Linked DNA regions of Homo sapiens: region 2 is linked to region 1. Evidence: fine-mapped expression QTL. Tissue or cell type: spinal cord. Region 1 holds a variant in brackets; the other region holds the start of a gene. All regions are shown on one strand. Distances are between the middles of the regions.

Region 1 (2,685 bases):
CAGAAGAAGAAAAGCATGTTTAGTATCAGTGCACCTGGTAAATAATTATGTGATCTGTACCTTTCTTTCATTTTTCTGTCTCACTGGCAAACATGTGCAACAAGGAAAACTCATGCAAAAGAGATATCTGCAGATCATCGCAATTACTATTGTCTGCCATGTGGAGAGATGGCGTGAAGAGATGTTCTTTGCTTGTGCTTTCCCAGATGGTAGAGAAAGTACCAGTAGATTTAAATGTGAAATTAGCAATTCATTCACTCTTCAGCAACTCTTCGGCCTTTTCTGTTCAACTCATGGGTCTGAAAAGGGCACCATACAACAAATGCTTTTAAAAGACAATATACGGGGCCGGGTGCCATGGCTCATGCCTATAGTCCCAGCACTTTGGGAGGCCGAGGTGGGCGGATCACGAGGTAAAGAGATTGAGACCATCCTGGCCAACATGGTGAAACCCCGTCTCTACTAAAAATACAAAAGTTAGCTGGGCGTGGTGGCACGCGCCTGTAGTCTCGGCTACTTGGGAGGCCGAGGCAGGAGAATCTCTTGAACCTGGGAGGCGGAGGTTGCAGTGAGCCGAGATTGCGCCATTGCACTCCAGCCTGGTGACAGAGCAAGACTCCGTCTCAAAAAAAAAAAAAAAAAAAGACTATGTACTGTATTTTAGAGTGATAGTTCATGTCCAGTGAAGTAATTCTATTGAATTTCAAGTAAAGGAGCGTTATAACTAGATAATAATAACAAATAAAACTGTGATTTAGTCTAGGTTTTCAGCTTGTATGAAAGAAGAAATATACAAATTCAGAGTTGATTTTTTAATATCAAAATGCATATTTGAAAACAAAATAAATATTTAAAAATTTAAAAAATGCCTATTTGATTTTTATAAATTGGTTTTTAAAAGTCATCCAGTGAAAGAGCCAACGTATTTGCATTCTGCCTATAGAAGTTTATGAAGTAACGACGTCAGTCTTTATTTTATTAGTGACTACAGGAACAGCTATTTCTGCAACAGCTGGTTGTTCCTTGATCATTTTTCTCTCGATTTCACAGGTTATGTTGATAGTGTCTGTGCAATCAGTAAGAAGTATATTTCAGGCGATTTCATTGAATAGCGTTTCCTAATTGAGGTTTATACCCCAGCTGGCAATTTCCTAGGTCT[A/G]TCTGCTGAAACTTTGGTCTTTTCATGAAGCTATGAGCTAGCTGGGTAGAGTTCAGCTCCACTGACACATGGAGAAAATGTGTGGCCACTTGGACGCTTTTCAAAATAAAGCTATTTTAAAATTTTTACCCCTTGGTTTAGAGCTTTGGTGTATATTTATCAGGGACAAAATGACAAGTTGAAGCATTTTTTAAAGTTTAAAATGCATATTTGAAAGCACTGATTAAATAAAATATTTATAGAGTTTCCACTTAAAGGTGGAGACTGACTTAACCTTTCAATTATTATTTTCCTATAACTGAATTGTATAACCTATGCAAATGATTGTAATCTTTTTTCTTCCTTCTTGTAGCTTGTAGAAACTTCATTAAAAGGAGAAATTGCCTTTGATCCCAGAAGCGCCTATTATTTGTGGTTTGTGATGGATTTTTGTGACGGAGGAGATATGAATGAGTATCTGTTGTCCAGGAAACCCAATCGTAAAACTAACACCAGCTTCATGCTTCAGCTGAGCAGTGCCCTGGCTTTCTTGCATAAAAACCAGATCATCCACCGAGATCTTAAGCCTGATAACATCCTGATTTCTCAAACCAGGTTGGATACCAGTGACTTGGAACCTACCCTCAAAGTGGCTGATTTTGGTCTAAGTAAAGTTTGTTCAGCCTCTGGGCAGAACCCAGAAGAACCTGTCAGTGTAAACAAGTGTTTCCTTTCCACAGCATGTGGAACAGATTTTTACATGGCTCCTGAAGTTTGGGAAGGACATTACACAGCAAAAGCTGACATCTTTGCTCTGGGGATTATCATCTGGGCAATGCTGGAAAGGATCACATTCATAGACACAGAGACAAAGAAGGAACTCTTGGGGAGTTATGTAAAACAAGGAACTGAGATTGTGCCTGTTGGGGAGGCACTTCTGGAAAATCCCAAAATGGAACTTCTCATTCCTGTGAAGAAAAAATCTATGAATGGGCGAATGAAACAACTGATTAAGGAAATGCTGGCTGCAAACCCTCAGGATCGTCCAGATGCTTTTGAACTAGAACTCAGATTAGTACAAATTGCATTTAAAGATAGCAGCTGGGAAACGTGACACATATTATTTGCAAATACCATGGATGATATGCTGCTTCTGTTTAACAGTGATGCAACATTATGTGGCTGAAAAAGAATATAAAAAGCTAGACTCTACCCTCTAAGGGTTTAGATTTTTTGTGGGATTTTTTTTTTCCTCATTTTTCTTAAATCCAAGTTGGCCGTTTTATTAGTATGTTTCAAATGTGTATTACCAATGTGGGTGTAAATTTTTAAAAAATGATTATTGATAGAAGTTTGGCAGGAAAATTCTTTAAGAGCTAACAAGAGAAGAGAGTCCAGTTTTCTGGAAATATGTCTTTAAGTATTTTAGACATTCCTCGTCAGTATTAGGAATTTCCATGGGAAAAGAGGTTTGCATGCTGGTAATGCAACCTTTGAAACTTTGTAAAGGAAACATATATGTATATATTTATGTATATGTAAGTATG
Region 2 (2,685 bases), 56 kb after region 1:
TACTCCCCCGCTCAACCTCTCAACCTCTCGAGTAGCTGGGACTACAGTCGTGTGCCAGCACTCCCCAGCTCCAAATTTTTTTTTTGTTTTTTGTGGGTTTTTTTTTTGAGACGGAGTCTTGCTTTGTTGCCAGGCTGGAGTGCAGAGGCGTGATCTCAGCTCACTGCAACCTCCGCCTCCCAGGTTCAAGCGATTCTCCTGCCTCAGCCTCCTGAGTAGCTGTGACTACAGGCGTGCACCACCACACCCAGCTAATTTTTGTATTTTTAGTAGAGACGGGGTTTCACCATGTTGGGCAGGCTGGTTTCCATCTCTTAACCTCATGATCCACCCGCCTTGGCCTTCCAAAGTGCTGGAATTACAGGCGTGAACCACCATGCCCGGCCAAATTTGTTTTTAAATATAGTTTTGATAATTGTTCTCATTGTAATCCTAAGCATTTTGTTTTGTGCATTTATTTATTTATTTATAATACAGAGTTTTGCTCTGTTGCCCAGGCTGGAGTGCAGTGGCACGATCTTGGCTCACTGGAACCTCCCCCTCCTGGGTTCAAGGGATTCTCCTGCCTCAGCCTCCTGAGTAGCTGGGATTACAAGCACCCACTACGCCCAGCTAATTTTTTGTATTTTTAGTAGAGATGGTGTTTCACCATATTGGCCAGGCTGGTCTTGAACTCCTGATCTCAAGTGATCCGCCCACCTCGGCCTCCCAAAGTGCTGGGATTACAGGCGTGAGCCACCGCGCCCGGCCTGTTTTATGCCTTTATAAGCAGCTATTCTGAGAAAGCATTCACAGGCCTCACCAGATGCCAGAGTCCATACTGCAAAATCCAAGGGAGGCTAAACACCCCAGTTCTAAATGTTTTCAAGCCATTCAGATACTGTGCACAGCTGCCCTTTGAAGTACGGTCTATTATATCTCTTTTACAGACCCAGAAACTGAGGCGCAGAAGTTAGGGTCAGCCCCAGGTCACACAGCTAACAAGAGCTGGCCTAGGCACCCAGGGACCTGGCCCCCTAGCCTCTGTGCTTTGCTACTGATTTCAGCGCTCCTCTTGTGGCTTTTTCTTGAGGAGCCCAAGGGTCAGGGTCCCACCCCGCGATATGAGGCCAGTGGCACTGCCCCCTAGCAGGCGCGAGATGCCAGAGCCCTAGGATGTCTGAAGGGCCGGGCAGGAGGCGGACGGGCGTGGGCCAATGGCTGTCGCAGTGCCTCATCTTGCCGTCTGTGTGAGCCCAGGTATGCAGTAGGCTCCGCCCAGGACCCAGCCCGGCCCCTCCTTAGGCCTGGGCTCTGGGAGCGGAAATTCCGGCGACAGCAGGGCAAAACAGGAGCTGATTCGAGCTGGCAGAGCTGGGCCATGGAACCGGTAGAGACCTGGACCCCCGGAAAGGTGGCAACTTGGCTGAGAGGTGGGTGGGGCTGGGGTAGAGTTGGGCTTGAAGGGGACTAGGTGTGGTGTCCCACCGGGAAGCGGGAGGAGAGGAAAAGGAAAAAAAATCTGCGGACTGGGTGCGCTGGTTCACACCTGTAATCCCAGCACTTTGGGAAGCCAAGGTGGGTGGGTCACCTGAGGTCGGGAGTTCAAGACCAGCATGGTGAAACCCCGTCTCTACTAAAAATACAAAAATTATCTGGGGGTGGTGGCAGGTGCCTGTAATCCCAGCTACTTGGGAGGCTGAGGCAGGAGAATCGCTTGAACCCAGGAGGCAGAGGTTACAGTGAGCCGAGATTGCACCGCTGCACTCCAGTCTGGACGACAGAGCGAGATTCAGCTCAAAAGAAAAAAAAAAATAATAAACTGCGGGCTCTATCAGTCGGTCAGTCAGTCAACAAATATTTACAGAGCACCTAACATGTTCCAGGAACCGTGCTGGGCAGAGAGACAGATGAGATGACCCTGGGGGGCCCAAGGACCCAGAAGGGGGCCCCTCATCATGGCAGTAGCCCAAGAGGCCTCTAGGGTGATAATGGGGAGGCGGTGTCATGAAAACAGGAGGGAGGCCTGACAGGCCCACACCCACTGTATCTCCTTCATCTTCCCTGGCCCCAGGGCCAGTGGGCTGTTGTTAAATCCGTTTCTTAGAGTCAGAAACTGACACACAGAGCCAGGAAATGATTTGCTCAGTCTCTGGTGTCATTTTCCCCGCTCCACACCCTGAGCTCCTAGTGACAGAAGCAGAAGCCCTAGGCCAGACTGAAGAGGTTGACACAGCCCCACCCTGGGGCTCCTATCCAAGGGGCAAGGTGCTGTCCAGGCTCAGCGAGCCCACACAGATGGGAAGCAACACACCCCACAGGCAGACTCAGAGAAGGAAGGGCCTCCTGACACACAGTGCGACCAGGAGCAGGCAGTCAGGACACCCCTCCCAGAGTGGGGAGCTGGAGCGCACTAGAGACAGGCTCAGGAGGACCAGCCCGGGTAAGGGCAGGAATTCAGGGCTGGGTTCAGACTCCCAGGCTGGATTCCAGGCCCACCCCCACCGCTTGCCAGCTCTGTGACCATAGGTCTTAGTTTTTCTGTCCATCAAATGGGAAAGGCAACTCTGACCTTATGAAGTCGACAAAGTGAGACAATCATGACATAGTTCATTTGTAGCTCAATGCCTGGGTCTATTGGGAGGGCACCAGCCCAATACAGTCACCGTGCAGGAAGGAGGTGGCTCAGGGGCCCATAGCCAGGGA

The links. PIP is the estimated chance that this variant, and not a neighbour inherited with it, causes the effect.
Region 2: CNKSR1 starts here. The variant in region 1 is fine-mapped to the expression of CNKSR1 in spinal cord (GTEx, PIP 0.94).

Annotation. Positions count from the first base shown.
Region 1 is chr1:26,120,326-26,123,010 of GRCh38, forward strand. PDIK1L (PDLIM1 interacting kinase 1 like) reads left to right here. Exons shown (of 3, transcript NM_152835.5): 3 at 1,512-2,685. The coding sequence ends at 2,252. Among named protein-coding and RNA genes, the nearest start is that of PDIK1L, 9.8 kb to the left of the region's middle. The variant A/G (reference allele first, on the strand shown) is at 1,160.
Region 2 is chr1:26,176,188-26,178,872 of GRCh38, forward strand. It overlaps CNKSR1 (connector enhancer of kinase suppressor of Ras 1), which reads left to right and starts at 1,304. Exons shown (of 21, transcript NM_006314.3): 1 at 1,304-1,412. The coding sequence starts at 1,361.